2 linked regions of the Homo sapiens genome follow. The protein of the gene in region 1 interacts with the protein of each later gene in a biochemical or structural test. Each region holds a gene or a part of one and is shown on either strand. Other genes may lie near its edges. The genes, in order: U2AF1 and CIRSR.

Region 1 (5,406 bases):
TGGGATGGCCTCACTTGGAACGTTTTGGTCTTAGGAATGAAATGCTCAGCCCCCAGCACTGACTTGTGGCAGGTGCCCCAGACCGGTCAGCTGGCTGTCACCATAGTCACACCACCAGCACGCGCCACCCGAGTAGCTTGGGGAAAGTAATACCAGAGTGTCTAAAGGCGGATCTGCACCGCAGGCTTCTGTGTCTCCCACAGCCATTGGCATAAGGAAACACGGACACGGACTACTGGCCCTCAGTGTGCCGTGTGAGCATCCACGCTCCCTCCCACGAACACATGGGGTTCTTGACACAAACTCGCAGGAACGAGAAGGTAACATGGGTCGGGCCCACCCACTGTGTCTCACCACAGATCAGCCTTCTTCCCAACATCAGTGCAGTCTACAGCGTGTCTACTGATTATAGCTAAGCACTTCTTCACTAACCAGTTAGAAAAGAAACCCCAAAAGGCTTTCCATGACAGCCTCGAGAAATTCCGGATTATTTAGCATGTAGATCTCACCTGGTATGTGTTTTATTTCATGCCCTAAGATAAAAAATATTATTTCATTTATACTCAAAGTGGTGGATGGATATTAATCTTTACCTCCAAGATGACTAGCAGATTTATAAAGAAAAAGAAATTTAAAGAACTTCCACAAGAAATAAGTTACACCAAGAATACTGTTATCACTACAAATTTTATTCAGAAACCCATCTTTGTATGTTTTTTTTTTTGTTGTTTTTTAAAAAAAATTCCCCTTATGAACTGGTTTGGTCAATCAACTACAACACTTTCTAGCAGACATAAGGTAAAAATGGCATGGCTCAGAATCGCCCAGATCTTTCACGATCTCTCGACCGCCTCCTGTCACGCTCCCGTCCGCCGCCACCTCCACCACCGCCACCGCCACCGCCACGACCACGGTCTCTAGACCGAGAACGACGCTCCCGGGATCGGGATCTTGATCTATGCCTGCAACCAAGGAAAATAAAGAAAACCGTGCCATCCAAACCACGGCACGCAGCACAGAACCACACCCACTCTCTCAACACGCGCAGCTCCTCAAGCCAACGGCACTGATAAGGAAAAACACTGCTGAAGAGACTGCACGCCGTGACTGAGACACACCCTGATTTCAGGTGTGAAAAGTTTCAGGAGAAAAAAATGTGCAACTTAGAAGTGAACAGGTGTAATACCTTGCATCTTCTGTCTTCTTCTAGAACCAACTCAAATGGTCACAGGAAATCATAATCAAAATGAGCTGGACACATACCATCTTCAACCCTCACTGACCCCACGCTTCAGGCGCTCATAGCTACTGTGTCCATCAGGTTTTTGGGCTGGGGAGAGCAGGCCTGTTTTTCTCTTATGCTTCTTGAATGCTGACAATAAAACAATCGCCACCCATCTATTTACTAGTCCATGTTTAACAGAAGAGGGATGAGAACCTCTCCAGACTCAGAACTCAATCGGTTCGATTCTGACGTCTTGATTTTCTCTGCTCTGTGACCTGTCGTACATTTAAATGTAGGATCAGAGAGATGTGACCGCTGGGCCTGATTCTGCCAGTGTCCCGAAGGGAGGATGCCAGCGATCCCAAGACATAATGAAATGCCCTAAAACCAACAAGCAAAACCAAAAGAAACCCCAGTGGACATGTGAAATATGTAAAGCAAAAGCTTGTCCAACCTGCAGCCCAACACAAATTCATCAACTTGCTTAAAACATTATGAGATTTTTTTTGCAATTAAAAAAAAAGTTATCAGCTATCATTAGTGTATTTTATTTGTGACCCAAGACAATTCTTCTTCCAATGTGTCCCAGGGAAGCCATCCCTGATCTAAAGGAGGTTACAACATCTATTCTTCTTCTTCGTAATATCTGGGAGAATAAACTGCATGCCCACTTTCACCACGAGCCTCATGTCCGCGGCTGCCCAGCTAACCGCCCTCTTGCTTGATTACTAAGATCTGATCTCTACTTGAGAAGTTGGATAATGAAGTTACCTGTGTGCAGGTGAATATTCTTCTCCAAAGAGGACATTTGGATATTTAAAAATATGTACTATGTTCTAAGCACTGCCTTTTAAAAAACAGAAACGACACCTATGCCAAAATTTTTTTTTTGGAAGGGGGAGGGTTGTGAGGGGAGAAAGAAGCCACTGAGCTTAACAACGGGCACAGGAATACTCACTTCTTGCGACGGCGGCCATACAGCTCCCGCCGCAGCTCTCTGGAAATGGGCTTCAAATGCATGAAGTTGCAGAAGCCGCCTCGTGTGCATTCTCTGTGGGTGGGTTGGAAGGAGACATTTACTACCTCGTGTGCACACGGCCCCGAACTGTGCTCAGTCACGTCACTGGCCACTCCTCACTCACCCCATCTCATACTGACGGCAGCAGGCTTCTCTGAAGTCCGTCACGGGTGACAGCTCGGCGTGGATCGGCTGTCCATTAAACCAACGGTTATTCAAGTCAATCACAGCCTTTTCCGCATCTTCCTCACGGCGAAACTGAAAAGACAAAAACAGAAGTGCTTGCCATCCACGCTTTAATAAGACTTTCTCAATTACCAATCCAAGTATATCAGAGAGAGATATACACACTCAGGTATAGTAAGGTGGAATAGTATTACAGGATAATTGAAAAATCCTTTATTTTCAATGAGATTAACTTCAAGATAGTCCAAGATTTTGCCAAATGTTGCCTTCATTTTTCAAATTCAACTGGTTAAAGGAGCAAATATGGCTGTGTAGGCAAATAAAGTTTTATTCACTAAAAAAGAAAAAAGAAACCAAACATGTGAGTAAACCTAACTTTTCCTTAGTCCACACAGCTTCTAAACCAACAGGTACTAAATATTCTACACTGAAATAACGATGGCTGTGGTGTACGGTCCGTCCTTCAGTTCTGCTGGCTGGGCGCACGTGTGGGCTGGCCACCGCCACATATGACGCAGCTGGTAGGCGCCGAGCCAGTGCACCTGAGCCCTGCTGTGCGCCTGAGCATCCAGGATCTCAAGGTGCATGGCGACAGGCACCCCATCCTCTGTCGGCCTTGGCCCCGGCACACTAAGCGGCTGCACCACTGTCTCGCTTTCGCCTGTTGGCCTTGGCCCTGGCACACTAAGCGGCCACGCCGCCGTCTCGCCCTGGCTCCTACCTTGACGTACACGTTCCCCACCAGGTGGTCTCCCAGGTTGTCACAGACGTTCATCTCCTCTACTTCCCCATACTTCTCCTCCATTTCTGTAAAAACCTCCTGAAGGGAGACCACAGTGGTTTAAGACTCGTTATACATTACAAAGTGTCATTAGATATAACTCATGTATGTTTATTAGCAGAGAAACATTTTAAATCCTTCCAAACAGATACAGAAGATCAACAGGTCTATCAGTCACAGAGTTCAGTTCTCTCACCTCAAAAAACTCATCATAGTGTTCCTGCATCTCCACATCGCTCACGGCACCTGCAAACAACAGAAATCTTGCTGGTTAGAACATGTTAACCGAGTGAACTCTTGTGTTTAAACTCAAACTGCTACAGTAACACACACGAGATTATCTAGAGAAAAGCCTGGCAGAGCTGCACTCTGCAGGAGCACTCAGGAGACTGAGCCACATGGCTACTTGTGAATGGTGTCAAGTGTGGTGAGATTTTAAATGTCCCCATGACAGTCTCGATTCTGGCTACTAAGGTGTTAAAATCACAACCAGCTTTAATCAGCATCAAAAGGGCCACATTTTCAGAAACTGTGAGGAAAAAGTTGACTCTCAAACTACAAATTTTTTTTTTACACCCACAAGATGCAGTCTGGCTCTGTCGCCCAGGCTGGAGTGCAGTGGCACCATCTCAGCTCACTGCAACCTCCACCTCTGGGGTTCAAGCGATTCTCCTGTCTCAGCCTCTGGAGTTGCTGGGACTACAGGCGACTGCCACCACGCCCGGCTAATTTTTTTTTTTTTTTTTAATTTTTAGTACAGACAGGGTTTCACCACGTTGGCAGGCTGGTCTTGAACTCCTGACCTCAAGTGATCCGCCTGCCTTGGCCTCCCAAAGTGCTGTGATTACAGGCGTGAGACACCGCACCTGGGCTCAAACTAAGAAATATTAAAATTTTCTTCCTTTTAAGATTTAGAGTAAAGGCCAAATAAGCACACTGATGTCTTCCCCTCTTCTATAAGTTTAAAATGAAACCTGAAAGCAGGGTCGATGATTAAAAGCTGATGTTCCTAACTAGTCTTTTATGGACTGCCAGCCATGGTATGCTCTCAAATTCTTCTGATGTGATTAAAATCCAAGCAACCATGAAGATTCAGTAGGACAGTTCACGCAACCTTACGGTATTGTGGACGCCCTCAAGTAAAGGGAATGTTACAATGTTTTGCTGATGAAAGCATTCTTTTTTTTTTCTTTTTTTTGAGACGGAGTCTCACTCTGTCGCCCAGGCTGGAGTGCGGTGGCGCAATCTCGGCTCACTGCAACCTCCGCTTCCTGGGCTCATGCGATTCTCTGCCTCAGCCTCCTGAGTAGCTGGGATTACAGGCGCCCACAACCACGCCCGGCTAATTTTTGTATTTTTAATAGAGATGGGGTTTCACCATCTTGGCCAGGCTAGTCTTGAACTCCTGACCTCGTGATCCACCTGCCTCGGCCTCCCAAAGTGCTGGGATTACAGGTGTGAGCCGCCGTGCCCGGCGCAAGTATTCTTAAGTTTTATATTCCCAAACTATTTTCATCAGTTTATTCTTCATAATTCACATGTATTAGGTAAAATCATGTCTGTTGCGTGGGTAAATTTGGCAAATTTACACTCTATCCCCATCATCATTCTATCAAATTTAATTAATTTTTTTTTCTTTTGAGATGGAGTCTCTGTCCACTCCAGGCTGGAGTGCAGTGGCGTGATCTTGGCTCACTGCAACCTCCACTTCCTAGGTTCAAGCAATTCTCCTTCCTCAGCCTCCCAAGTAGGTGGGACTACAGGCGCGCACCACCATGCCTGGCTAATTTTTGTATTTTTAGTAGAGACGGGGTTTCACCATGTTGGCCAGGCTGGTCTCAACCTCCTGACCTCACGTGATCTGCTTACCTCAGCCTCCCAAAGTGCTGAGATTACAGGCATGAGCCACTGCCCCCGGCCCACTCTATCAAATTCTAGAGTTCTCTAAACCTGAGAAATCACAGAGCTGGTGTATCAACAAACATGTTCCAATCAGCTAGATTAGGGGCTGGCAAAAGCCTGACTGGTTTCCAGATTGGGCCGGCTGCCTTAGCCTGTGCACCCAACGTGGGCATCTGACTGCTGGCACACGGGTCTTTGAGCTTGCTCAAAACTCTTTTTATCTTTTTTTTTTTTTTTTTTGAGACGGCGTCTCACTGTCTCCAGGCTGGAGTGCAATGGCGTGATCTTGGCTAA
Region 2 (7,291 bases), on another chromosome or scaffold:
ATTAAAAAAACAAAACAAAACAGGGTTGGTGCATGTTAAATGGATATACGAGCCAATCTAACAGAGCTCTCAATGGCCCAAACTGAAACAACTGGAGCAAGAAAATAAGTAACAATAGTATTATATTATAATCCAAAGAATTAAATAAACAGCCATGAGTCCATATTGATAGAAAATTAATAGTAACTAGATAAGGGAAATTCTTCCTTACAGAGGAATTCAAATTAATAAATGTAGAGGGAATGATAGAAATAGAAAATAACCATTAGAACATCACAGAAATATATAATTGATGCAAGCAAGATCTACTGATGAATACCAAAATTAGGCAAAAGTCCAAGGAGAAACAGGGTATTTGCAGGGCTTCAAATATTAATTAAAAGGGAAAATAGTAACTTTTTTTAAAGATAAAGAATAAACATGAACACTGTGATCTGTTTCAAACCTAGTTTTTCACCTCCACTCTGTTTTTATCCCTCTAACTCAACAACTGTTTCCTGAATACCCTCTCCATTTTCCAATATGTTTTTACTATTAATAATATAAAAATAAGGTTTTTGTTGTTGTTGTTTATCTGAGACGGAGTTTCGCTCTTGTTGGCCACGCTGGAGTTCAGTGGCGTGATCTTGGCTTAGCACAACTTCTGCCTCCCAGGTGCAAGCAATTCTCCTGCCTCAGCCTCCTGAGTAGCTGGGATTACAGGCATGCACTACCAGGTTTGGCTAACTTTGTATTTCTTAGTAGAAACGGGGTTTCTCCATGTTGGTCAGGCTGGTCTCGAACTCCCGACTTCAGGTGATCTGCCCGCCTTGGCCTCCCAAAGTGCTGGGATTACAGGCATGAGCCACTGCGCCCGACCAAATTAGGGTTTTTAAACAGTGATGCTATTGACATTTTGAACTAGATAGTTCTTTGTTGTGTGGAGCTGTCCTGTGCATTGTAGGCTGTTTTGCGGCATCCATAGTCTCCACCCACTAGATGTTGATAGCACCCCAGTCCGCAGTTGTGACAATCAAAACAATGTCTCCAAACATTGCCACGTTCCCTGGGCAGGGTGGCAGGGAGGGCGCAAAAAACGGCGCTCAGTTGAGAACCACCTATCTAAATCCTTATCATTCTTCAGAGTTCAGCTTAAATGTCACCTCTTCCATAAAGTCTTCTGTTAACCTAAATGGAATTATTATTTCCTATACTAACATGCTGTATTTTTAAAAGCAGTGTATGTTTTTAATATATCAGTTATTATATTTGGCCTTCAACTATATGTATTTGTATCTCTTACTAGGGTTTCTTAAGGATAAACTACACTTCACACACTTTTATAGGTCCCTATAATACCACTTATTGCCATGCATGGAGTACTCAATAAAAGTTACTAAGATTAAATAAAATTAGTGAGAAAGCTACTTAACTTTTATTTCTTTAACTTTCCTCTCAATATATTATATTTTAAAGAGTAGTAATAGTTTAGTATTAGTTTGCTAAATTCCATATTTTGATTGAAAACTGAACTTCATGGGCAATTTACCAAAACACCACTATTCAGTGGCTTAAGATTAACCAAGAGAAACCAGCTTCAGTGTTAGATCTGCATATACAAACACAATAGTTAAAGGCAGGTACCATGTTAGAAGACACCAATGAAGAACTCTAGCCACGAAACAGCTTTTAACAGAACAATGACATGCGTGTCAAATAAAGTCACTTTACCTTTCCTCTTGAAAGTATGCTGGGTATCTTTTGTGTTAAAGAAATAAGTCTGTAAGAGGTCTCAGCAGTTCAAGTGTAGACATGATTGTTCTTCTAAGCTTTGCCTAATTTGAGACTTGCTCAAAGACTGTATATGAGTCACGTGAATCTATATTTTACGTGAATTATGGGTAAAGCTGGAAAAAGTGGTCATCTACAGGTATGAGAGTAAAAGAGATAGCCCTCACGGAAAGACACGAATCCTATAATTGGGTATTTGATTCCAAAAAACTGACTTAATATATCATTCAGTAGGAAATTATTCCCATGAAATTGATAATTCTAGATATACTGGCATAACAGAATTTCTTACCTATTATCATATGATTCTTGTTCTTTAAGATATTGCTGCATCAATTCTTCTTGTTTCTTCTTATCATATGATATTTTCTGTTCTGCCATCCATACCTAGATTAGTGAAGTAAAAATGCAAATTAAATTGTTGGATTTAAATTAAACAAACTTTGCTTTTCTTGTATAATAAAATATAAAATGCAATTGTTTAAAGCAGGAGTGCCCAATCTTTTGGCTTCCCTGGGCCACAGAAAACACACTAATACACAGTGGAAGAAGAAGAATTGTCTTGGGCCACACAAAATATACTAACGATAGCCAACGAGCTAAAAAAAAGAAAAGGGCAAAAAAATCTCATAATGTTTTAAGAAAGTTTACAAATTTGTGTTGGGCCACATTCAAAGCCGTCCTGGGCCACATGTGACCCACAGGCCAAGAGCTGGATAAACTTGGCTGAAAGTTTACAACATAATCCAATTTGGCCGCAATTACATCATTACAAATTAACACCTGAAAAATCTGAAGTGTCTTGATACGAGTTCTTTTTATTTTTGAGACGAAGTCTGGCTATCACCCAGACTGGAGTGCAATGGCATGATCTTGGCTCACTGCAACCTCTTCCTCCCAGGTTGAAGTGATTTTCCTGCCTCAGCCTCCGGAGTAGCTGGGATTACAGGACCCTGCCACCACACCAAACTAATTTTTTTGTATTTTTAGTAGAGAAGGGGTTTCGCTATGTTGGCCAGGCTGGTCTTGAACTCCTGACCTCAGGCAATCCGCCTGCCTCAGCCTCCCCAAGTGCTGGGATTACAGGCGTAAGCCACTGTGCCCAGTCCACAGAATGCTTTATAGCAAGTTTGGGTTTTTTCAAAGCTGTATTTATAGTTTAAATTATATTAACTATATTCATAGGTAGTCAATGTTATACATTTCTTATATATCCTTCCAAGATGTTCTAATATATATATATATGCAAAAGAACATATACCACATTCTTCTTATATAAATGGTAACATATTTTACGCAAACACACACACGCACACAAAATATATATAAAATAAAATTATATATCATGGAGATCTGATATGGTTTGGCTGTGTCCCCACACAAATCTCATCTTGAATCATAGTTCCCATAATCCCCATGTGTCATGGGAGGGACCCGGTGGGATGTAATTGAATCATGGGGGCGGTTACACTTCATGCTGTTCTCATGACAGTGGGTGAGTTCTCACAAGATCTGATGGTTTTATAAGGGGTTTTTCCTCTTTTGCTCAGCACTTCTCCTCACTGCTACCATGTGAGGAAGGACATGTTTGCTTCCCCTTCTGCCATGATTGTAAGTTTCCTGTCAATTAAACCTCTTGCCTTTATAAATTACTCAGTCTTGGTCATTTCTTCATAGCAGCGTGAGAATAGACTAATATAGTAAATTGGTATAGGTAGAATGGAGGGCTGCTAAAAGGATACCCGAAAATGTGGAAGTGACTTTAGAACTGGGTAACAGGTGGAGGTTGGAACAGGAAAATGTGGGAAACTCTGGAACTTCCTAGAGAATTGGAGTGCTCAGAAAACAGGAAGATGTGGGAAAGTATGGAACTTCCTAGAGACTTGTTGAATGGCTTTAACCAAAATGCTGATAGTAATATGGACAATGAAGTCCAGGATGAGGTGGTCTCAGATGGAGATGGGAAACCTTTTGGGAAGTGGAGTAAAAGTCTCTCTTGCTAGGCAAAGAAACTGGTGGCATTTTGCCTCTGCCCCAGAGATCTGTGGAACTTTGAACTTGAGAGAGATGACTTAAGGTATCCGGTAGAAGAAATTTCTAAGCAGTAAAGCATTCAAGAGGAAGCACAGCATAAAATTCTGGAAATTCTGCAGCCTGACAATGGAATAGAGAAGAAAACCCTATTTTCTGGGGAGAAATTCAAGCCGGCTGCAGAAATTTGCATAAATAATGAGAAGTCGAATGTTAATCACCAAGACAAGGGAAAATGTCTCCAGGGTATGTCAGAGACCTTCACAGCAGCCCCTCCCATCATAGGCCTGGAGGCCTAGGAGAAGGAAAAAAGTGGTTTCCTGGGCCGGGTCCAGCCTCTCAACTGCTGGGTACAACCTTTGGTCTTCGTGCCCTGCATTCCAGCCACTCCAGCTATGGCCACTGCTTCAGAGAATGCAAGCCCCAAACCTTGGCAGCTTCCATGTGATGTTGGGCCTACACGTGCGCAGAAGGCAAGAACTGAGGTTTGGGAACCTCTGCCTAGATTTCAGAAGATGTATGGAAACACCTGGATGTTCAGGCAGATGTTTGCTGCAGGGGTGGAACCCTCTTGGAGAACCTCTACTAGGGCAGTGCGGAAGGGAAATGTGGGGTCGGAGCCCCCACACAGAGTCCCTACTGGGGTACTGCCTAGTGGAGCTGCGAGAAGAGGGCCTCTGTCCTCCAGACCCCAGTATAGTAGATCCACCAACTTGTACCATGTGCCTGGAAAAGCCACAGACACTCAACACCAGCCCATGAAAGCATCCAGGAGAGGGGTTATACCCTGCAAAGCCACAGGGGCAGAGCTGCCCAAGGCTTTGGGAGCCTACCTCTTGCATCAGCACACCCTGGATATGAGACATGAAGTCAAAGGAGATCCTTTTGGCACTTTAAGGTTTAATGACTGCCCTATTGGATTTTGGACTTGCATGGGGCCTGTAGCCCCTTTGTTTTGTCCAAATTGTCCCATTGGGGATGGGTGTATTTACCCAATGCCTGTACTCCTGTTGTATCCAGGAAGTCATTAACTTGCTTTTGATTTTACAGGCTCATAGGTGGAAGGGACTTGCCTTGTCTTACATGAGACTTTGGACTTAGACATTTGAGTTAATGCTGGAATGAGTTAAGACTTTGGTTGTTAAGGGCAGGATTGTGTTTTGAAATGTGAGGACATGAGATCTGGAAGGGGCTGGGGTGGAATGGTATGGTTTGGCTGTGTCCCCACCCAATCTCATCTTGAATTGTAGTTCCCATAATCCCCGCGTATCGTGGGAGGAACCCGATGGGAGGTAACTGAATAAAAGGGGCTGTTACCTCCATGGTGTTTTCGTGATAGTGAGTGAGTTCTCAGGAAATTTGATGGATAAAACCATCAGAAAAGGAGCTTTTCCTCTTTTGCTCGGCATTTCTCCTTGCTGTCACCATGTGAAGAAAGACGTGTTTGCTTCCCCTTCTGCCATGATTTTAAGTTTCCTGAGGCCTCCCCAGCCCTGCAGAACTGCAAGTCAATTAAAATTCTTTCCTTATAAATTACCCAGTCTCAGGTATTTCTTCATAGCAGCATGAGAACAGACTAATACTAATACAAGACTAATATGGATCAGTAAACAAACACTTTCTTCTTTTGGGTGGTAAAGTTGCATATTGTGGGACTATACCATAATTTATAATTTATTTATCTCATACTGTATAAATGGGCACTTAAGAAATTTCCAGTATTTTGCTATTAAAAATTTTGCTGCAAGAACTCAATACACAGGTAATTTCACACACATTTGACAGGGTTTTGAAAAGGATCAAGGCATGGCCAAGGAAAAAAACAGGGCAAGATATAACTGGCAGAGAGAATGACTCAGGCAAAGGCCCAGAGATATAAAATAGAACGTAAGTAGTTCAATATTACTAACATATAAAATCTTAGGTTGGGCTGAGGTGGGCAGATCACCTTAAGTCAGGAGTCTGAGACCAGCCTGGCCAACATGGTGAAACTCCATCTCTACTAAAAATACAAAAATTAGCCAGGCGTGGTGGTGTGTATCTGTAATCCCAGCTACTCGGAAAGCTGAGGCAGGAGAATCACCTAAGCCTGGGAGGTAGAGGCTTCAGTGAGCTGAGACTGCATCACTGCACTCTAGCCTGGGCAACAGAGTGAGCCTCCATCTCAAAAAATAAATAAATAAATAAATCTGAGGTGGGAGAATAGTAGGAGGGGAGAAGGAGAAAAACGATGGAGTGAGATTACTTGGACTCAATCCTGTAATATTTTAATAACAGGCTGAAAGAGATCAGATTTGTGCTTAAAAAAAGACAATTCTATCGAAATAACTTACATTCATACAATGGAATATTATTTAGCAATAAAAAGGAAAAAGTACCAATACATGCCATACCATGGATAAACTTCAAAAACATTATGGTGAGAGTAGCCAGTCAAAAAAGACCACAGATTGCATGATTCCATTTAAATGAATTTCCAGAATAGGCAAATCCACTAACAGAAAGTAGATTAGTGCTTGCCTAGGGCTGGAGAGAGGGAGAAGAGTTAAGGAAAAATGGGAGTGACTAACAGGTATGCAGGTTTCTTTTTTTTTGAGTCAGTGTCTCACTGTCACCCAGGCTGGAGTGCAGTGGCGCAATCTTGGCTCACTGCAATCTCCGCCTCCCGGGTTCATGCGATTCTCCCACCTCAGCCTCCCAAGTAGCTGGGATTACAAGCGCCCGCCACCACACCCAGCTAATTTTTGTACTTTTAGTAGAGACAGGGTTTCACCATGTTGGCCAGGCTGTCTTGAATTCCTGACCTCGGGTGATCCACCCACCTCAGCCACCCAAAGTGCAGAGATTACAGGTGTGAGCCACCATGCCCAGCGGGGGTTTCTTTTTGGGGTGATGACAAAGTTCTAAAATTGTTTGTGGTAATGATTACTTAACTCCATGAATACATTTTAAAAACCACTAAATTGTACATTTTACATGGGTGTTTGTATGATATGTAAATTTATCTCAGCAGAGCTGTTAAAATGAAAAATGACTATTCTGATGGCTGTGTAGTGAATGGATTTGAGAGGACTCAAGATTGGAGGCAGTAGAACCACTTAGGAAATGCAACAATATAGGTGAAAGATGATGAGGGTCTGAATTAAGACACAAGCAGCAGTGACAGAAAGGAAAGATGGATTCAAGAGATATTTGGAAGGTAAGACCAATAGCATTCAGTGATTGACTAGATAAAGGAGTGATGGGAAAAGGGATGAATCCTGAGCTTCTGGTTTGGGCAACAGGATGAGGGACTGTTTTACTATCTATATTTCTACCCATATGAGATAGCAAGTATAAAAAGGGCTGATTTGGGGTAAAAAACTTTTATATCAGATATGTTGAGTTTGAGGTGCCTATAGGACATCAAGATGCAAATGTCTAGTAGATAGCTGTCTTGAGCCACATCAAAGTTAAGAAGAGAAAACTGGGACTGCAGATTTGAGTCATG

What was found.
Region 2: the proteins of U2AF1 (region 1) and CIRSR form a complex in vitro, tested with the Homo sapiens proteins (one study listed by BioGRID).

Annotation. Positions count from the first base shown.
Region 1 is NC_000021.9:43,092,288-43,097,693, forward strand, and holds the end of U2AF1 (splicing factor U2AF 35 kDa subunit), read right to left. Parts: intron 3,457-5,406; coding exon 3,407-3,456; intron 3,250-3,406; coding exon 3,151-3,249; intron 2,502-3,150; coding exon 2,368-2,501; intron 2,277-2,367; coding exon 2,184-2,276; intron 963-2,183; coding exon 815-962; 3' UTR 669-814; downstream 1-668. UniProt on the Homo sapiens protein: Plays a critical role in both constitutive and enhancer-dependent splicing by mediating protein-protein interactions and protein-RNA interactions required for accurate 3'-splice site selection. Recruits U2 snRNP to the branch point.
Region 2 is NC_000002.12:174,385,623-174,392,913, forward strand, and holds part of CIRSR (corepressor interacting with RBPJ 1), read right to left. Parts: intron 2,158-7,291; coding exon 2,063-2,157; intron 1-2,062. UniProt on the Homo sapiens protein: May modulate splice site selection during alternative splicing of pre-mRNAs. Regulates transcription and acts as corepressor for RBPJ. Recruits RBPJ to the Sin3-histone deacetylase complex (HDAC). Required for RBPJ-mediated repression of transcription.